Homo sapiens: one gene and its partners. The protein of the gene in region 3 purifies or fractionates together with the protein of the main gene of each other region. This does not show direct contact. Each region holds a gene or a part of one and is shown on either strand. Other genes may lie near its edges.

Region 1 (5,408 bases), on a different chromosome or scaffold from region 3:
CCATGAGCCGGCTGTTGAGCACAAAGCCATCAAGCATCATCTCCACCAAAACGTTCATCATGCAAAACTGGAACTCCAGGAGGAGGCACAGATATAAGAGCAGGATGAACAAAACATATTGCAAAGGAGCCAGACGTTCTCAGAGGAGCTCCAAGGAGAACTTCATACCCTGCTCTGAGCCTGTGAAAGGGACAGGGGCATTAAGAGATTGCAAGAACGTATTAGATGTTTCTTGCCGTAAGACAGGTTTAAAATTGGAAAAAGCTTTTCTTGAAGTCAACAGACCCCAAATCCATAAGTTAGATCCAAGTTGGAAGGAGCGCAAAGTGACACCCTCGAAGTATTCTTCCTTGATTTACTTCGACTCCAGTGCAACATATAATCTTGATGAGGAAAATAGATTTAGGACATTAAAATGGTTAATTTCTCCTGTAAAAATAGTTTCCAGACCAACAATACGACAGGGCCATGGAGAGAACCGTCAGAGGGAGATTGAAATCCGATTTGATCAGCTTCATCGGGAATATTGCCTGAGTCCCAGGAACCAGCCTCGCCGGATGTGCCTCCCGGACTCCTGGGCCATGAACATGTACAGAGGGGGTCCTGCGAGTCCTGGTGGCCTTCAGGGCTTAGAAACCCGCAGGCTGAGTTTACCTTCCAGCAAAGCAAAAGCAAAAAGTTTAAGTGAGGCTTTTGAAAACCTAGGCAAAAGATCTCTGGAAGCAGGTAGGTGCCTGCCCAAGAGCGATTCATCTTCATCACTTCCAAAGACCAACCCCACACACAGCGCAACTCGCCCGCAGCAGACATCTGACCTTCACGTTCAGGGAAATAGTTCTGGAATATTTAGAAAGTCAGTGTCACCCAGCAAAACTCTTTCAGTCCCAGATAAAGAAGTGCCAGGCCACGGAAGGAATCGTTACGATGAAATTAAAGAAGAATTTGACAAGCTTCATCAAAAGTATTGCCTCAAATCTCCTGGGCAGATGACAGTGCCTTTATGTATTGGAGTGTCTACAGATAAAGCAAGTATGGAAGTTCGATATCAAACAGAAGGCTTCTTAGGAAAATTAAATCCAGACCCTCACTTCCAGGGTTTCCAGAAGTTGCCATCATCACCCCTGGGGTGCAGAAAAAGTCTACTGGGCTCAACTGCAATTGAGGCTCCTTCATCTACATGTGTTGCTCGTGCCATCACGAGGGATGGCACGAGGGACCATCAGTTCCCTGCAAAAAGACCCAGGCTATCAGAACCCCAGGGCTCCGGACGCCAGGGCAATTCCCTGGGTGCCTCAGATGGGGTGGACAACACCGTCAGACCGGGAGACCAGGGCAGCTCTTCACAGCCCAACTCAGAAGAGAGGTAGGTGTGTTTCTGTTGGTTGAATGTGGTTTATGTGAGTGACTGCTCTTTGGACAGAGGCTTTTTATGGTAGGAATCTTTGCGCCACGTTTAGTGAATCTCAGCCGAATTCTTACATACGTGATCATTTTCTGAGCTTTCTCCCAAATGCTTTTCCTTCCTGTAAAGTCAGCGTCTCTATCAAGAATGTGTCCCTGTGTAAGATGCATCGAGGTAAAGCAGAAAGTGCTCTTGCAGAAGTTTCACACTTTCCATTAGAATGCATTCAGAGGCTTTTTTCCTGCAAATCCTCACTTACTACGCTTTATTCGTCTTTGTCAAACCTTCATTTCTAACCTCTTCATCTGACACTCAGAAAATAGCTGTTGTAAGGCGAAAGTGATCTAAAGCGAATGACTTCCTATTTCTGGATTCCTGGTAGGGAAAGAGCAAGAGTGGCCTGGGAGAGCCACGAGCACAGTATTCTCACAGGTGCGAGGGGTGCCCTGCAGATATCTCAGTGCTCAGTGTTAAAACTTCTGCACCTTGTTCTGCAGCTTAATTTGTGCGAATCATGTCAGCTAGAGTTTTAGTCTGCGTGTGCCCTTTTCTCTAGAGACAGTGGGGTGGGGTGGGTCAGTGGGAGTGAGTACCTTTGTTGGCATTAAAGGTTGGATTCCCCAGCACAGCTTCTCTGTGTGTCCACAGTCAGGATCTGGAGGATGCGACTTTCTTAACCCACAGGTGGACGGGACTTGACTGTGGGTTTGATTTGGCCGGTTCCTTTGGGTTTTGTGTGTTTGTGGTTCCAGCAGGTGAGGCCGTGTCTCCAGTATCCTCTTCCCTTGTGCCCTAGCCTGGCGATGTGCCTCTTCTCTGAGGTCATTTGGGTGGACCCTGCCTGCCATAAGTGTCCCATTTTCTGTTTCTCCCACCTGGACCCGCCTGGCCTGCGAGCCCTTCTCAGCCACTGGCTCCTGCCGTGCGTCCAGCTCAGAACCAAGGTCTGGTATGCCTTGTTCCTTCTGTGGTGCCTGCCTTCGAAGCCTGCAGTCCCGCCTGTGCATGGCAGAGACCACACTCTCAGACCGCCAGCGGCCTCCTGTGGCTTGAGCCCCCTGGGGCCTTTCTCACTGTCACTCTGTCTTCCCAATGCCCTTGGACTGCTCAGGGCCACCTGCTCCAGGGTCTGCCGTAGGACAGCCCTTCCCTTCCAGGGAACTTTCACTGGCATTCTCCCCCTACTCCCCAGTTCTTTGCTATTGCATCCTCGGACATCCTCCCTAGACTCCACCCACCGCTCAGCTGCCTGCTCCGTGCAGGTAACCCCCACCCTCCCAGGGGCTGCACATGGTGGGTGCTGCAGTGGGGAGCTGTCTGGACACAGACCAGTCTCATGGGTTAGCGGCTCAGGCTCCTTGGCTCAGTTCTAGAAGCTCCCAGGTTTTGTTGGATGTTTTGGTTTTCAAAGTTATTTTCGTGTATAAAGTCATACTGTGTGAGCTAACCAGAAGCAGATGAAACAAGCCTTGGTTGTCATCTGTCTTCCCAGTTGAGGATGGACATACGTAAGTGTTCAGGTGATGGGAAAGGTTTTTCTCTGCAGGGCCCCAGCTAGGGTCAGGGGCACTGTGTGGGCAGGGCCCTCGGAGCTCCTCCCCTGGCAGTGCACGGCTAACAGCAGTCTTTCCCTCGGGTCTTGGTCTCCAACTGTGTGCCTGATGCCCACTCCTGTGCCCACTTGGGGCTTTTTCAGACCAAACCACCAGCCGGGTGACTTTCAGCCACAGTTAGTGAAGCCTTCAAGAATCTCAGCTACATCTTCATGGCAGACACTTCATGGAGGCTGCTTTGAGGCAAAGTTTATGCGTTCTGTTTAACAGATGACCTCTCAAGAGTCTCCTTCTCAGTTGAAAGGGGAGAATTTCACCAAAAACAACTGTCCGGCCCAGAGAGAGATCTGAGGTTTCTCCTGGTCTCCCACACATCAGAGCTCCTCTGCTCTGCTCGTCCTGCTTGTCTAAACCTAACTGCTTTTTCTCAGATAGTGCCCCAGCTCTTCCTTTTACCATCATCCTGCCCCTGGGATTTTGTCTCGTGCCTTTTCCCACCTTGTTCCATGATCTGGCACCGTGCCAGTCGCCTGCAGACCCCTTTCCATGAGTGACATCTGCCCCAGTGCTCCGTGCAGAGGCTCCTGCCTTGCTTTTTCACCTGCTCAGTCTAAAGGGCTTTCTTCTGGCCCAGCCACACAGGAGGGACCTCGGCCTTGTAGAGAATGGTGTGAGGTTGCATTATTGTGGGACCATCCTGAGGACTCAGCCCTTGGTGGCCCCGCAGGGCCCTCCCAGCTACCCTGGAATTTGATAGCAAGTCAAATCATGAACACCCCAGGTTTCATTTTAAACCACAATATAAACATGTTTAACTGGTTTCCTATGTTTTTCTGCTTTTCCCGCTTAAATGATAGATTTCTTGAGGAAAGAGACCAATTCTTCATGAGCTGCAACTACATATGGAGTTTTCATGCCTAACGTCTGAGTGCTCTCTGTGTGCCAGGCCATGCTGAACCGTTTTTACGTCTTATCTTCTTTCATCCCCACCAGAACCCCTTGATTAGATCGATTCTGTCCAATAGGCAGGCTGTCTCTCCTTTTAATAGATATGGAAAAGTAGCTTAAGTCTTAGAACTCCTAAATTCACTCGTGCAGCAGCGCTAGCTGGGCCAGGGTGTGGGATGTGGACTTCCCCACCAGCTTGTGCTCCCTGGGGGAGTGTGGGGAGCAGGGTCGGGGGGTTGCCATTATATTTTTGTTGTTTCTTTAACATAACTTACTTATTTAACGTAATGCCACTTTCTATAAGTATTTTTATACATGCAATGGAATAAGTAGAAAACAGTTAACCTTTTAGTGGCTGGCATTGGGAATTCTAGAATTTTGCTAACATCATTTTCTTTGTCTTTTTTTTTTCCTAGAGGAGAGAACACGTCTTACAGGATGGAAGAGAAAAGTGATTTCATGCTAGAAAAATTGGAAACTAAAAGTGTGTAGCTAGGTTATTTCGGAGTGTTATTTATCTTCCCACTTGCTCTCTGTTTGTATTTTTGTTTTGTTTTTGATTCTTGAGACTGTGAGGACTTGGTTGACTTCTCTGCCCTTAAAGTAAATATTAGTGAAATTGGTTCCATCAGAGATAACCTCGAGTTCTTGGTGTAGAAATTATGTGAATAAAGTTGCTCAATTAGAATTTTTAGGGTTCTCTTTGATAGGCCTGTTTTTCTGATGTGTGTGTTTTTTTTGGGGGGGGGTTATTTGTTTGTTTGTTTGTTTGTTTGTTTGTTTTTGAGACAGTCTCTCTCTATCGCCCAGGCTGGAGTGCGGTGGCACAATCTTGGCTCACTGCAACTTCCGCCTCCCGGGTTCAAGCGATTCTTCTGCCTCAGCCTCCCGAGTAGCTGGGATTACAGGCGCGCGCCACCACGCCTGGCTAATTTTTGTAGTTTTAGTAGAGACGGGGTTTCACCATATTGACCAGGCTGGTCTCGAGCTCCTGGCCTCGTGATCCATCTGCCTCGGCCTCCCAAAGTGCTGGGATTATAGGCGTGAGCCACTGCTCCCAGCCGTGTGTTCTTTTTTAAATTTAGATATGTCCAGAGAATCCTCTCTCCTGTTTCCCATTTCATTCGAGAATATTGTTTGCTTGTGAGACGTAAGTTCGAGCCCTGCATGCAATGACCCTTGAAGGAAAATAAACAGTCCTGGTGGTCCCAGACGCTCCTGCAGCCACAGCGCCTGTGACTCCTCATGATTCTTACTGAAGCTGTTGATGACAGGATATCATGGTGACGTTTTTGTAATGAAATATTTCACATATTCAGAATACATTGGTGAAACTCATGCTGGAGTAAATAGTTAATATATGGCCATATGAGTTTGGGTTTTTTTTTTTTATGAAAGATTTAAAATGAGATTAAATTACACATTTTTCATTCCCGCCTGCCGCCCCAGGCGATTGCTCTCCTGATGTCAGGTATCACCCCCATACCCTGCCCCATATCTCTTCC
Region 2 (5,408 bases), on a different chromosome or scaffold from region 3:
TTGTAGGAAATGCTATGAGAGGACAGAAGAGGACAGCTAAATCAGAGAGCTATGGAAAGTTTTCTGGTGGAGTTGACATCTAAGCTGAGTGCGAAGGCTTTTGCTAGGCAAAGAAGGGAAGAAAAGTTTTTCAGATAGAGGATAACGTACTGGAAAATGAACGAAACAAGGTGAAGTATCTGGAAACTGTAAGTAATTTGGTGTGACTGAATTAACTTAAAGCATGATATGTTTGGGTAGGAATAAAAGGGCAGTGGTGGGAGATGAAGCTGAGTGAGGGAGTCGAAAATTTTCTTGGCCAGGCATGGTGTCTCACACCTGTAATCCCAGCACTTTGGGAGGTTGAGGCAGGTGGATCACCTGAGTTCTATACCAGCCTGGCCAACATGGTGAAACCCTGTTTCTACTAAAAATACAAAATTAGCAGGGCATGGTGGTGTGAGCCTGTAATGCCAGCTATTAGGGAGGCTGAGGCAGAAGAATAGCTTGAACACGGGAGGTGGAGGTTACAGTGAGCCGAGATCATGCCATTGCACTCCAGCCTGGGTGACAAGAGCAATACTCTGTCTCAAAAAAAAAAAAATTTTTTCTTGAAAACTACATGGAACCATTGAAAGTTGTTGAGAATTGCTTGAACCCAGGAGCTGGAGGTTGCGGTGAGCTGAGATCAGGCCACTGCAAAAACAAGGGGAGAGCTGAATGTAAGGATGGAAATTCCAGGTAAGAAGTCCAAGTGGAAAATGAATAAGGGCCTGAACTAATGCATTGGAAGTGGAGCAGAGAGGATAGATCTGAGCCTTTTTGAAGTAGAATTCAGGGCCGGGCACAGTGGCTCACACCTGTAATCCCAGCACTTTGGGAGGCTGAGGTGGGTGGATCATGAGGTCAGGAGATTGAGACCATCCTGGCTAACACAGTGAAACCCCGTCTCTACTAAAAAAATACAAAAAATAGAAATTAGCCAGGCTTGGTAGCGGGCGCCTGTAGGACGCTGAGGCAGGAGAATGGTGCGAACCTGGGAGGCGGAGCTTGCAGTGAGCCGAGATCACGCCACTGCACTCCAGCCTGGGCGACAGAGCAAGAGTCTGTCTTAAAAGAAGTAGAATTCAGGACCTAGTAACTCATCCTGGGGTAGGAAGAAGATGGAGGTTTTTTTCTTAGGAAATTAGATAGATGTTACTGTCATTTGAAGCATGCTGTCATTGGACCTGCTAGTTAAGATGTAAGAGTAAGTAGGTAGGATGAAGTCAGAGGCTTGGTTAATCTGGTGTGAATGTTAACCTCATATCTATGATATTTGAAGGGATTTAAGATCCATAACATGGCAAATTTTGTGCTATAAATTTGTGGTCCTTTAGATGAATAGGTAATCTTGTAAAATACTAACATGTTTTCTGTCCAAATTGCTAAATCTTTGTTTATTGTAATTAAAAAAAATACTAGGTGAGTACCTATGTCACTGAAGAATGTTTTTGCCAAGTCAGCCAGTGAATTCAGTCATTGAACACATTGTGTACTTTCCTTGTACCGGACATTGTTCTGGGTTTTGAGGATGCAGCAGTGAATAGAACAAGAGTTCTTACCCTCGTGGAGTTTACTTTCTACTATGGTGGACACACGTTAAGAAAAAAAATAATGCTAAGTGCTTTGAAGAGAAATGATACGGAATCAGAATAAGAGGTTAGAGTGACAGAGGGTGGGTTACTTTAGATTAGGTGATAATGGAGGGCCTTTTCGAGATGACATTTAAGTGTGCTGTGAAACAAGTGATAGAGTGAGCCATTCAGGTTTCTGGGGGAGGAGCATTCCCTGCAGAAAACAAGTGCAAATACCCTGAGATGGAGTGTGCTTGGCATGTTTGAGTGTGATACATTTAAGGAACATTAAGGCCATCAGGGCTGGAGTGGTAGGAGAGGAGGTCAGAGAGGGTCACAAAGGGCCAGTACAATTGTAGGGCCTTATAGGACATGGTAAGGACTTGAGTAAAATCTGAATGTGTTAGGAACCCTTTGAAGGGTGTTGAGTGAAGTGATGTGATAAACATTTTCAAAAATGTTTGACTGCTGGGTAGTGAACACATCATGGGTTCGAACAGATCATGGGAACACAAGAGTGGAAGTAGGGAGATCAGTCAGAAGGCTGTCAAGCTAGTCCTGGGGAGAGATGGTGGTGAGGAGAAATAGTAGTATTGGGAATATATTTGAAGATGGGGATGATTGGATTTCAATGGATTGGGTGTGAAGGGAAAATTCTACTTACTGCAACTTGCACATGTATGTCCTCCCACAAGTGCCCTCCCTCCTTTTCTTTTGAGACGGAGCCTCTCTCTGTTGCCTAGGCTGGAGTGCAGTGATGTGATCTCGGCTCACTGCAGCCTCTGTCTCCCGAGTTTAAGTAATTCTCTTGCCCCAGACTCCCCTGTAGCTGGGATTACAGGCACCTGCCACCACGCCTGGCTAATTTTTTTTGTATTTTTTGTTTTTTTTTTTTTAGACGGAGTTTCGCTCGTTACCCAGGTTGGAGTGCAATGGCACGATCTCGGCTCACTGCAACCTCTGCCTCCCAGGTTCAAGCGATTCTCCTGCCTCAGCCTCCCAAGTAGCTGGGACTACAGGCATGTGCCACCATGTCTGGCTAATTTTTGTATTTTTAGTAGAGACGGGGTTTCACCATGTTGGCCAGGCTGGTCTCAAACTCCTGACCTTGTTATCCACCTGCCTCGGCCTCCCAGAGTGCTGGGATTACAGGTGTGAGTCACCTCGCCCGGCCTTTTTTTTTGTGTTTTTAGTAGCAATGGGGTTTCACCATGTTGGCCAGGATGGTTCTGAACTCCTGACCTTAAGTGATCCGCCCGCCTTGGCCTCCCAAAGTGTGAGCCACTGCACCTGGCCGTCCTCCCTTTTTTTAAAAAAGTCTTTTTGCTGTGATTAGTTGGTAGATGGGATTCTTGGAACTGAGTATGACCATGAAGGCATTGTCAAATCTTAGCCTTCTCAGTGAGCAGTGAACATTGAGTTGAGCAATCCTTTCACTTGTTTTTTTAATTAAAAAAAATGAGATATAATTCACATACCATAAAATTCACCCTTTTATTTTATTTTTTTTGAGACATGGCCACAGTCTGTTGCCCAGGCAGGAGTGTAGTGGCGCAATCACAGCTCACTGCAGCCTTGATCTTCAGTGGGCTCATGTGATCCTGCTTCAACCTCCCAGGTAGCTGGGACCAGAGGTGCACGGCACCATGCCCAGCTAACTTTTAAATTTTCTGTGGAGGTCTCACTGTGTTGCCCAGGCTGGTCTTGAACTCCTGGGCTCAAATGATCCTCCCATCTTGGCCTACCAAAGTGTTGGGATTACAGGCATGAGCCACCGCGCCTCACCAAATTCACCTTTTTAAAGTGTTCATAAATTTCTAGTATTTTCACAAGTTTGTGCATCCATCACTACTATCTTTTGAAAACTTTTTTGTTAATTTCTTTTGTTTGTTTTTTTAGAGATGAGGTCTTGCTGTGTTACCTAGGCTGGCCTTGAACTCTTGTGGTCAAGTGATCTTTCCCCCTCAACTTCCTGAGTAGCTGAGACTTCAGGCACGTTACTTATCCCTAGCTATCTGTCACTGCTATTTAACTCCAGAACATTTCCAAATTCCCAACAAGAAACTTCTTATCCATTAGCAGTCATTCACTGTTCTCCCTTTCTTTTATCCCTCCAGTAACTAATCTAAATTTTTTTTTTGAGAAGAGTTTTGATTCTGTCACCCAGGCTGGAGTGCAGTGGCTCGACCATGGCTCACTGCAGCATCGACCTCCTGGGTTCAAGCGATCTTCCTGCCTCCAGCTCCCAAGTAGATGGGATTACAGGTGTGCGCCACCATGCCCAGCAAATTTTGGAATTTTTTGTAGTAGTGAAGTCTCACTATGTTCCCTAGCCTGGTCTGGAACTCCTGAGCTCAAGTGATCCTCTTGCATTGGCCCCCAAAGTGCTGGGATTACAAGATTCAGACACTGAGCTTAGCATTTACTTTCTGTCTATAAGGATTTGCGTATTCTGGGCATTTTCTGTTAACGGAATCCTGTAATACATATGTGGCCTTTTTGTGTCTGATTTCTTTTACTTCCCATAAGTGAAAGAAGTAGCAAGTGTTGACCAGGCGCGATGGCTCACGCCTGTAATCCCAGCACTTTGGGAAGCCGATGTGGGTGGATCACGATGTCAGGAGTTCAAGACCAGCCTGGCCAAGATGGTGAAACCCCATCTGTACTAAATAAAAAAATTAGCCGGGTGTGGTGGTGGGCGCCTGTAATCCCAGCTACTCAGGAGGCTGAGGCAGAGAATTGCTTGAACCTGGGAGGCAAAGGTTGCAGTGAGCTGCGATGGCGCCACTGCACTCCAGCCTAGGTGTCAGATCAAGACTCCGTCTCAAAAAAAAAAAAAAAAAAAAAAAAAAGGAGTAGCAAGTGTTAATACTATGCTCTTTTTTATTGCTGAATAATAGTCCATCTTATGAAGATACGACATTTTGTCAGTCTACTTATTTGGAGGACATGTGGGTTATTTCTGCTTTTTTGCTTATTGTGAGTAATGCTGCTATGAGCATTTGTATGTAAGTTTCTGTGCGAACATGTATTTTTAATTCTCTTGGGTCCTGGGAGTGGACCTTTCAGTTCTTAGGGTACTAATATTACCTGTGTGATAACCTGGGGAGTGCTGAGTATTTAACTTCATGTATTTTGTGTTGTGGCAAGTGGCCACCAAGGAGTTGGACATTTAAAAAATTAATTCAATATTTATTGAATACTTATTATGTATTGGTCTCTGTTCTAGTCAGTTGGAATATGTCAGGGAACAAAACAGGTAGAAATTCCTGGCTCTTTGGATCTCTTAGGAGTACAGGAAACTCTGGTATTCAAGGTTTCCGTAGAAAATAATGTGCTTTTAGAAATCATAATTTTCGTTCTAAAATTGGAGACAGCATTCAGATTTGGGGAAGAAAAAAATGAGTTTATGGAAGTATATAAACAGTTTACTAGAAAATAAAAAGCAGGTCTACTAAGGTCAGCATAGACAAACTATCTTCATGTTCACCTTACCATAGTGGCTGTTATTTTAAGCTGGTTAATAGAAGCAAGGGACATAATGAAAGAGTCAAAAAGGGAAAAGTTTTAAAACAATACTTGGCTTACTCTGAGCATAGTTTCCCCTTTCCTTAATTAACGCTTGCTCATATATTACTCAGAAAGTCCAAGTGTAGGCTTCAGAGGAGAGGAGCCATAGATAGCTTTCATCAGATTCTTGATGAAACCCACAGTACAAATGTTAAGAAACACAGCTCTGTGGTATCATCTGTTGACTGATCTGCTGCTAATCTATTTAATAGGAAGAGTTGTTTCTATATCCTTCTACTTTTA
Region 3 (5,478 bases):
GTTCCATGAAAGTCAAAGGTAGTGACCACATCCCGCCCCTGCTTTTCTCTAAAGCATGTGAATTTTGCTTCCTTGCTAAGAAACTGGGAAAAAAGCTTGCAGTATTAGAAGTGGACCTTGATTCCCAGGTATTATTACCTGGGAATGTTACAAGCTACCAAAAAGAGATGTTCAAATTTAGAAAATGCAAATCAGAAGTCAGCAAACTTTTTCTTTAAAGGTCCAGAGAGTAGACCAGGCGCAGTGGCTCATGCCTGTAATCCTAGCACTTTGGGAGGCCAAGGTGGGCGGATCACCTGAGGTCAGGAGTTCGACACCAGCCTAACCAACATGGAGAAACCCCGTCTCTACTGAAAATACAAAATTAGCCGGGCGTGGTGGCGCATACCTGTAATCCCAGCTACCAGAGAGGCTGAGGCAGGAGAATTGCTTGAACCCGGGAGGTGGAGGTTGCGGTGAGCCGAGATCGTGCCATGGCACTCCAGCCTGGGCAACAAGAGCAAAACTCCATCTCAAAAAAAAAAAGGTCCAGAGAGTAAATATTATAGGCCTTGTGTGCCGTATGCATTCTCGCATTCTCTGTCACATATTCTTTGTTTTTCTATAGCCCTTTAAGAATGTAAAACTATTCCTAACTCACAGGCCATAAAAAACAAGAGACCATAGACTGAATTTAGCCCACAGGCCACAGTTTTGCTAATGCCTGGTATAATTCATAAAAAGGGAAAATCAGGAAGAACAACTTTGTGTTGTTCAAGGCTGTAGGCAAGTTTTACCTGTCTGCCTCATTGCTCTGTTCTCAGCCTCTTCTGTAGGAGTACTGTCACCCCAGAAGAAGTCCCCACCCACCACCATGCTGTTACCAGCCTCACCAGCCAAAGCCCCTGAGACAGAGCCCATTGATGTTGCTGCTCATCTTCAGCTGTTGGGAGAGTCCCTAAGCCTCATTGGACACCGTCTGCAGGAAACTGAGGTGAATACAACTATCAGCAGCATGACTACAGTTTCCCATATAGTTTCCCATATAATTTTGATTCATTCACTCATTTTACATACATGTATTGAGCATCTACTTTATGCTAAATTATGCCAGGTTCTCAGGATGGCGTAACATAGAAGATATAATGATAATAACAGAAATATCTATAGAGATATTCAGTCTACCTGTTAGCTCTCAAAGTTTCACTAATGATATCCTATTGAAACAATGGCACAAAAAGAAATTGGAGTACCCTGTAACTTATTTTTATTTTTTTAAAATGCAGTGGAGGCTGGGCGCAGTGGCTCACGCCTGTAATGCTAATTTGGGAGGCCCACCTGGGAGAATCGCTTAAGGCCAAGAGTTCGAGACTAGCCTGGTCAACACAGTGAGACTCCATCTCAAAAAATACATATATTCAAAAAATTTAAAAGAAATAAAAATGGGGCCGGGCGTGGTGGCTTATGCCTGTAATCCCAGCACTTTGGGAGGCTGAGGCAGGCGGATCACGAGGTCAGGAGTTCAAGACCAGCCTGGCCAATATGGTGAAACCCTGTCTCTACTAAAAATACAAAAATTAGCCAGGTGTGGTGGCATGCACCTGTGGTCCCAGCTACTCGGGAGGCTGAGGCAAGAGAATCACTTGAACCTGGGAGGCAGAGGTTGCAGTGAGTCAAGATTGCGCTACTGTACTCCAGCCTGGGCGATAGAGCAAGACTCCATCACAAAAAAGAAAGAAAGAAAGAAAGAAAAACGCAGTGGTGGCTGGGCACGGTGGCCCATGTCTGTAATCCCAGCAATTTGGGAGACCAAGGCAGGAGGATCGCTTGAGGCCAGGAGTTGGAGAGCAGCCTGGGCAACATAGCGAGACCCCATTTCTACAAAAAATTAAAAAATTAGCCAGGCATGGTGGTGCACACCTGTAGTCCCAGCTACTCGGAAGGCTGAGGCAGATGGATTGCTTGAGCCCAGGAGCTCAAAGGCTGCAGTAAGCTATGATTGCTGCACTGCCCTCCAGCCTGGGTGACAGAGCAAGACCCTATCTTTTTTAAAAAAACAAAAACAAAAAGGCAAGAAAAAGGATGAGTACAAATTCCATAGCAGTTTTGATTACTTCTGTCTCCTTCTAAGAGACTTTGAATTTTTCTCTGCATTTCCAGCAAAGTCTTGAATATTCAATTGTATAGGAGATTAAGAGTTCCTCTGTTTTGAAAATAGGTAACAAATGGAGAAGTTAAGGTTCCCAGCTCTCCATTACTCTGCACTTAAATTATACAGTGCTATATGCCCTGGGGAGATTTTTGTCCTTTTAAGCTTCAATTTCAAAAATCACTTAACCTGCACAGCTGTCGTGTTTCATTTCTATTACCATATTCAATTTCTAACAATATTGTCCCCTTAGCTAACTCATTAGTATAGTAGTTCCGCTTTCCACCAAGTTCTAGTAAGACATTTCAGCAAAGAAGTCAGTCTAAGCTACTAAAGCCATTTTTAAGCTAAGAAATTAGTGTAGGAATGTAAAACTAATCACTTGCTTCAATGTGGAAATTGAATTATTCAACAAATAAAATGCCAAAGGCCACAAGAGCTGAAGCTATATCTAAATTCTTTGGCTAGTTTCTAAAAATTTTAGCAGTAGTCAAAAGAACTTCAGCACCTTCATATAGGCTCGATATCTGAATGGATATAGATATTTCCAGAAGAAGTATTCTATGACCTTACTTATTTTTCAGATTTAATCATTCTTACGTTTCGTAAGAAGTTAGAAGTAAAAACAGTTTGTTTTAAGCGTATTCTGAATTTTCCCAGATATTTCCATTTAGTTTAGTAAGTACAAAGTTCACCCTTTTAAAGTGCAGAATTTAGTGATTTTTAATATATTCACAGAATTGTGAATCACTACTATTTCATTCCAAAACATATTGTTACCCCTAAAAGAAACCCTGTACCAGCCAGGCGCGGTGGCTCACGCCTGTAATCCCAGCACTTTGGGAGGCCGAGGCAGGCAGATCATGAGGTCAGGAGATCGAGACCATCCTGGCAAACGTGGTGAAACCCCATCTCTACTAAAAATACAAAAAATTAGCTGGGCGTGGTGGCGGGCGCCTGTGAGAGGCTGAGGCAGGAGAATGGCGTGAACCCAGGAGGCGGAGCTTGCAGTGAGCCGAGATTGCGCCACTGCACTCCAGCCTGGGCGACGGAGCGAGACTCCGCCTCAAAAAAAAAAAAAAAAAAAAAAAGAAACCCTGTACCCATTGGCAGTTATTCCCCATTCTCCCTCTAATCCACTTTTGGCCCGAATTTAATCATTTGCATAGATCTCTGCAATTTTATAATTTCCACATACCACTTAATACTTTTACTTACTTTATAATTTTATTTAAATAAACTTGTCTGTGCTTTTACAGTGACATTCATGACATCTCAAGGGTTATATTCTATTTTTTTAATGTACATCGTAATGGACATATAATTATCAAAATAATATGTTCAGTAGTAAATTAATGTTCATCATTTTAGCAGTAAAACTGGAACATACAATGCATAAGTTAGAAAATTAAGGCTAGAGGCCGAGCACTGTTGCTTGTTCCTGTAATCCCAGGACTCTGGGAGCCAAAGTGGGAGGATCACCTGAGGCTAGCAGTTCGAGACCAGCCTGGCCAACATGGCAAAACCCCATCTCTACTAAAAATACAAAAATTAGCCAGTTGTGGTGGTGCACACCTGTAATCCTAGCTACTTGTGGGGCTAAGGCAGGAGAATCGCTTGAACCGGGAGGTGGAGGTTGCAGTGAGCCGAGATCACACCACTGCACTCCATCCAGCCTGGGCAACAGAGTGAGACCCTGTCTCAAAAAAAATAAAAATAAAAATTGTGCGTGTGTGTGGCGTGTGGTGTGTGTGTATCTTAAGAAAGTTAAAGCTAGAACCCAAATTGCAGAGGGACTTCATAGACATTCTGAAGTGTGTATACTTCACTGTTGGGGAACTACAGGGGTTTTTACAGTGGAAAGGGATGAGATCAGAGCTCTCATTTACTTTTCTCTGAGAATATCTTTTATTTTAGATTGGAAGTGAAAAGAGACCAGAATTGGGGAGAAGTTAAAACAATAATCCTAGTCTAGATGTGACAAAGATAAATTAGCTATAAATAAATATAGGGCAAAGGAAATGGAACAATATTACTAATTACTGACATTTTTGGGGTTTTAGCTATTATCTTCCCTGTATACTAATGTTTTATTGAAGGCTCACTCACCCAGCTTTGGTTCAGAGTGCTTAATATGAATTATATCATTTAATTCACACTGCAGCTTTGTGAGGCAGAATTTGTTCCCCCCATTTTACAGAAGAATAAACAGACTTAAAGAGGTGAAGTCACTTTCTCTAGAGTTTAGCCCCTAAGTGGTAAAATAGAGACTTGAATTTGGAATGTGACCTCAAGGTCCGGGTTCTTAACCTCTTACTGTACTGCTGCCCTCAGAAAGTATAGGGGGGAGATGTTGACAAGGAGGATGAGGGAAAGGAAGAGTCAGTGATGGCTAGGCCTTGAGACTGGGCAGTTATGTGAATGGTGGTGACTTTGGCAGAGAAATGGATGCTCAAAGGAGGGCTAGATTTGCATGGGAAGGTTATTCTTCCTTACAGGAAGTTGAGATGGAGAAATATCCAAAAGGAGAGACCCAAAAGACAGCCAGAAATGCAGTTTTGAAGATCAAGATGTTGGTAGTAATATTCATAATTACTGATATTTTTTGAGTACTTAACCATGTATTAAGCACCATCCCAAGTATATTATATCTATTATCTCAATCCCATCTGCTGCAGATGCTGTTAGTATCTTACAGGCACAGCATAGTAAGCAACTTGCCTAGGTACAAAACAGTGAGTAGTGGAGCCAGGATCTGGACCCGGGCAGTCTTGAATCCGGAGCTCATTTTCTTAAGGACTGTGCTGTGTTGCTTCCCAATATGACATATTCTCACACTGCTTCTAGTTAAAGCAGATTATACAAGAACTCGGCAGCAGCAACAGTCTTTCTTATCTCTTTGAATCACAAATAGACAATATGAATTACATAAAATGTTAAAATTTGAACCAAATTCACTTTGAGAGTGAACAACTCAACCTAGAAAAATTGTATAATCAGCTATCAAAAGCTACATACATGCAGGGTTGTAGGATTCTCATAGTAATCACATCTGAGCTATATTTGTCGAGTTTATAACAGATATACTTTGCATACATAATCACAAATCTTACCAACAGCTCTCCAGAGTAGGTAAAGCATTTTTTACTGTTCCTGTTAAGGAGACAGAAGTTAAGGATGTGAACTCCCCAAGGTCACTCAGAAGGTAAGAAGATGGGCTAGGATTACGGAAAGGGAACATGGGAATGTGCTGTAAAAGTTTTCTTTCTAAACAACTTACAGAGTTATCAAAGTAAACTTTCCATTTCTGCTGTAAAGTTTCAAATTATAAGAGTAGAACTGCCTAGGAT
Region 4 (5,408 bases), on a different chromosome or scaffold from region 3:
TATAAATGTCTGTTTGAAACATTAGAAGAATGAACCTGAGATGCCCTTGAGACTTAATTTTTCCATGGCAGGAGGAGGGAATCTGCATTTAAGCATTTCATAAAGAACAATGAATTACTTCTAAAATCAAATAAAGGTGTTTTTTTTTAATCTCATTTATCATGCCACAGTCATTATCTACACCTAGCATAAGTAGACTTTCTTGATATGTTCAGCTGTTTAAATACCTCAAGAATCCCAGGTTTTTACCTTAATTTCAGTCTATTACTTCACAATCATCATGAATCTTATCACCAGAAGGATGATAAAATAAATAAAGTAGGGCAAAATCATGGAAAATTAATGTTTTTTAATTTAAATTTCCACTTTGTGATTGAGTTTCAAATCATTTATCAAACAACAATATTCACTACTTATAGTATTCTTTATAGAAGAAATTGATGGGATAAAAAAATAAAAAATAGGTCTTAACCCACTAAGAGGTTGTCATTTAATAGTACTGACAATATATGGCAGTAAATTCTAAATAAGGCACTTGTGTTATAATGGAAAGAGGCTAGACTTAAAAAAGCAGAGTTTACGCGGGGCGTGGTGGCTCACGCCTGTAATCCCAGCACTCTGGGAGGCCGAGGTGGGTGGATCACTGGAGGTCAGGAGTTTGAGACCAGCCTGGCCAACATGGTGAAACCCCATCTCTACTAAAACTACAAAAATTAGCTGGACGTGGTGGGGGATGCCTGTAATTCCAGCTACTCGGGAGGCTGAGGCAGGAGAATCGCTTGAACCCAGGAGGCGGAGGTTGCAGTGAGCCGAGATCGCACCACTGCACTCCAGCCTGGGCAACAAAAGCGAGACTCCGTCTGAAAAAAAAAAAAAACCAGAGTTAAAATTTTTTAACTTTTTTTTTTTTTTGAGATAGAGTCCTGCTCTGTCAGCCAGGCTGGAGTGCAGTGGAACTATTGTTCGCCACAACCTCTGTCTTCTAGGTTCAAGTGATTCTCCTGACTCAGCCTCCAGAGTAGCTGGGATTACAGGAGCTTGCCACCATGCCTGGTTGATTTTTGTATTTTTAGTAGAGACGTGGTTTCGTTATATTGGTCAGTCTGGTCTCAAACTCCTGACCTCCAGTGATCCACCCACCTCGGCCTCCCAAAATGCTAAGATTACAGACATGAGCCACGCCTAGCCAAATTTTAACTCATTCTATCTTGGTTAACTTATGAACTTTGAATATCATCATACCCAACTCACAGGACCTTTATGGGAATTAAATGAAAAAATTTATGTTAGAGCTATTCGTTAACTGTATTATACAAAATCAGGTTCACATTAGAAGAATTTAGCACCAGCAGCAGAATTCACTATGACTGAGTCTTGAATTGGCAGGATTTCTACACATGGAAAAGGTAGAGAAGGGCATTGCAGACATGAAAAACTACAAATAAGGAGGTTTAAATGAGAAGTCTGAAGCCAAAAATACTTGTAAGGAAACAGAAAAAAAAAATAGAGAGGTGGTCTATGGAAAAACATAAATATCCAGTTAAAAGTGGTAACTAGCATCACTTACCTTTCAACATGTCGATGTCATCACGTTCTATCTCAGCCATCCATTTGGGTGGAGAACTAGTAATAGGCTGTCAAAAAATAATATATCCATTCAGACACATAAAAAGTGTGAGGAGACCCTATTATTCTTATAAGAAGTGTAGCCTGGGCCGGATGCGGTGGCTGCCAAGGTGGGCGGATTACTTGAGGTCAGGAGTCAGGAGTTCGAGACCCGCCTGGCCAACATGGGGAAACCCCATCTCTACTAAAAATACAAAAAAAATTAGCCAGGCGTGATGGCACACACCTGTAATCTCAGCTACTTGGGAGGGTGAGGCACGAGAATTGCTTGAACCTCTTGAATGTGGGAGGCAGAGGTTGCAGTGAACCAAGATTGTGCCACTGTACTCCAGCCTGGGTAAGAGTATTACTCTGTCTCAAAAAAAAAAAAAAAAAAGAAAAAGAAAAAATGCAGCTTGTCACATAGCCTTCAGGTTGTTTGGAAATACTGGCAGATTATAATTTCAAAAACCTGGATTTCTCCAGGTTTAGATATGGCCTACAAATAGTCACTGCAAAAAACATGGCTCATCTTGAAAGTCAGTCTCAGAGAAATCACTGTGGAAGAATAGGTATGACCACTATTACTGATTTATGCCTAACAAGTTAGTATAGCAATGAATGAAATTACTTGAAATTCAGTTCTGGTGAAAGCCTCCAATTCAACTGTTTGAAACACTAATCAGTAAGTAACATTCTCTGGCATACGGGAGATTCAAAGAAGAATCAAGAATGAGAAAATCATCATTTTAAGTGAGAGAAGTCTGGAATGGTCATCACTTGGAATTTCACAATTTTATTGTAGAGGTTTTAGGAAACTTCAGAATTTTACAATTTTTCATTTATGAAAGTGAACTTAAAACTATGAAAGAAAGCCCATTCTTAGAATAGCTCTGGGTTGGCAGTTTAATGCTAGTTGCACACGAGAATCACCTGTGTAACTTTTAAAACTATAAATGCCTTGGCCACACTCCAGACATAATGATTTAGAATATGAGGGGTAGGGAAGGGTCCAGTGGAAAAAGTAGAGCAAGGGACTCCTCATATGTGCTTTTCTTTTTTTATATTTAATTAATTTTTTTCTTGGTGCTCATTTGTTACAGTGCATTTTTCAAGAGCTCCATAGCTGCATGTTGATGATTCTGTCATGCACAAAAGGTAGGGTTGAGAAACATTATTTCAGCTTTGCGTCTTTCTCTTTTTTTAATTAAAATGTACTCAGAACCTATTATGTGACAAGCAAAACACTTTACATGCATCAAGTCATTTACCTCCAAATCAACTCTATAAAGTAGGTATTTTTTTCACATTAAAAAAAACAAAAAAACAAAAACACATACATTGGCTCACACCTGTAATCCTAATGCTATGGGAGGCTGGAGCAGGAGGATCACTTGAACCCAGGAGTTCAAGACCAGCCTGGGAAATATAGTGAGACCTCTTCTCCACAAAAAATTTTAAAAGGCCAGGCGCGGTGGCTCACACCTGTAATCCCAGCACTTTGGGAGGCTGAGGTAGGTGGATCACTTGAGGTCAGGAGTTTGAGACCAGCCTGACCAAGATGGTGAACCCCGTCTCTACTAAAAATACAAAAATTAGCTGGGCGTGGTGGTGGGCACCTGTAATCCCAGCTACTCAGGAGGCTGAGGCAGGAGAATCGCTTGAACTTGGTAAGTGGAAGTTGCAGTGAGCCGAGATCGTACCACTGCACTCCAGCCTGGGCGAAGAGTGAGACTCTGCCATAAATAAAATAAAATAAAATAAAGAACAGAGATCTGAGCTTTTACTCAGGAGCGAAACTTTGGATTGACCTCAGTAGGTAAGGGATATTACTTACACTTTTGAAGGAAGCTGCAAATTCAGCAACACCTGGTACTAAAAAGAAAAACAAAACTTTATTTATTCAATAAGTATGATTGCTCAGGCATAGAAGATCCAAATAATAAGAAAACAGCTTTGTCTGTTTTCTTATAGTTTAGAAGAAGAGAAAGAATAAACCAATAACTATAACACTGTTTCAGTCCTCAAAGAAAGATGCCAGGACTATGGCAAGACAAAAAATGGCAAGCTAAGTCAGACCCAGGGGGCATAAAAAGCTTCTCAAGGAAAATAATGCCTCAACTGAACTTGGAAGGACCAGGAGTTAGCTGGTTGGGAGGGTGGTAAGATACAATATCTCTTACCAGAAAGTTTAAACTGCCTTTTTAGAGATGCTGTTCTGTCAATCCAATTTTATTTATTTAAATTTCTCACAGAAAGAATCACATTAAAATGCAGAAAAATAAAAATCAGGGCTGGGCATTTTGAGAAGTCAAGGCAGGAGGATCCCTTGAAGATCAGCCTGGGCAACAGGGCAAGACCCCAGACTCTACAAAAAATTAAAAAACGGGCCGGGTGCAGTGGCTCATGCCTGTAGTCCCAGCACTTTGGGAGGCTGAAGCGGGTGAATCACTCGAGCTCAGGAGTTGGAGACCAGCCTGGGCAATATAGTGAAACCCCGTCTCTACAAAAAATACAAAATTTAGCCAGGCGTAGTGATGTGCCCCTGTAGTCCTAGCTACTTGGAAGGCTTGAGCCCGGGAAGTTGAGGCTGAAATGAGCCATGATCACACCACTGCACTCCAAACTGGGCAACAGAGGAAGACCCTGTCTCAAAAAAAAAAAAAAAAAAAACAGTTAGTTGGGCATGGTAATGCACACCTATAGTCCTAGCTACTTAGGAGGCTGAGGCAGGAGGATGGCTTGAACTCAGGAGTTGGAGGCTGCAGTAAGCTATCATCGTGACATTGCACTTTAGCCTGGGTGATAGGATGAGCCTCTGTCTCTAAAAAAAATATATAATTAAAATAACATCTTTGCCTGAGCTCAGGAGTTGGAGACCAGCCTGGGCAACACAGTGAAACCCCGTCTCTACTAAAATACAAAAGATTAGCTGGGTGTGGCGGCATGTGCCTGTAGTCCCAGCTATTCAGGAGGCTGAGGCAGGAGAATTGCTTGAACCCGGGAGGTGGAGGTTGCAGTGAGCTGAGATCACGCCATTGCACTCCAACCTGGGCAACAGAGCGAGACTCCATCTCAAAAAAAAAAAAGTTCAATCTCACCAAAAAGGAAATGTAAAATGAAACTAATAGATTAGTAACATCTAATACTGGCTAGTATGTGAGGAAAGGGGCCCTCATACAGTTATCCTCTTCCATGTATATGAAGATATGTGTACATGGGTATTCACTGATAAACTGTCTGTAAAGTCAAAAACTAGATATAGGCCAGGCACAGTGCCTCACACCTGTAATCCCAGTGCTCTGGGAGGCCAAGGTGGAAAGACAGCCTGAGCCCAGGAGTCTGAGACCAGTCTGGGCAACACAGTGAGATCTTGTCCCCCCCAAAATTTTTTAAATAGCTGGTTGTGGTGGTACATGCCTGTGGTCCCAGCTACTCAGGAGGCTGAAGTGAGAGGATCACTTGAGCCCAGGAGGTTGAGGCTGCAGTCAGCTGTGATCACGCCACTGCACAAAGCCTGGGTGACAGAGTGAGACCCTTGCTCAAATTAAAAAAAAAAAAAAACTACAAAGTAGATATAACTTAAGTTTCCAAATAATGTATGAATACATAAACTATAATATATCCATACAATGAAATATATTTAAAAGAATGAAGTAGACATACACATACCAAGATGGAACTGTTCACATGTGGAGTAAGTTAAGTGGCAGGCCACATGCATATGACTCCAACATTATGAAGAAAAAAAAAATCCCTCTTATACATACTTAAAAAATTATTATTTCCTTATCTGTATAAAA

Evidence for each region. The genes of interacting proteins can lie anywhere in the genome.
Region 1: the proteins of HMGXB4 (region 3) and HJURP purify together in Homo sapiens (affinity purification with mass spectrometry, with the first as the bait; one large-scale study listed by BioGRID). This does not show direct contact.
Region 2: the proteins of HMGXB4 (region 3) and ARID4B purify together in Homo sapiens (affinity purification with mass spectrometry, with the first as the bait; one large-scale study listed by BioGRID). This does not show direct contact.
Region 4: the proteins of HMGXB4 (region 3) and LIN52 purify together in Homo sapiens (affinity purification with mass spectrometry, with the first as the bait; one large-scale study listed by BioGRID). This does not show direct contact.

What each region holds. Positions count from the first base shown.
Region 1 is NC_000002.12:233,836,564-233,841,971, reverse strand, and holds the end of HJURP (Holliday junction recognition protein), read left to right. Parts: coding exon 1-1,363; intron 1,364-4,319; coding exon 4,320-4,395; 3' UTR 4,396-5,270; downstream 5,271-5,408. UniProt on the Homo sapiens protein: Centromeric protein that plays a central role in the incorporation and maintenance of histone H3-like variant CENPA at centromeres.
Region 2 is NC_000001.11:235,317,208-235,322,615, reverse strand, and holds part of ARID4B (AT-rich interactive domain-containing protein 4B), read left to right. Parts: intron 1-5,408. UniProt on the Homo sapiens protein: Acts as a transcriptional repressor. May function in the assembly and/or enzymatic activity of the Sin3A corepressor complex or in mediating interactions between the complex and other regulatory complexes.
Region 3 is NC_000022.11:35,287,435-35,292,912, forward strand, and holds part of HMGXB4 (HMG domain-containing protein 4), read left to right. Parts: coding exon 1-18; intron 19-803; coding exon 804-973; intron 974-5,478. UniProt on the Homo sapiens protein: Negatively regulates Wnt/beta-catenin signaling during development.
Region 4 is NC_000014.9:74,094,020-74,099,427, reverse strand, and holds part of LIN52 (protein lin-52 homolog), read right to left. Parts: intron 3,481-5,408; coding exon 3,443-3,480; intron 2,766-3,442; exon of another isoform or gene 2,709-2,765; intron 1,635-2,708; coding exon 1,568-1,634; intron 1-1,567.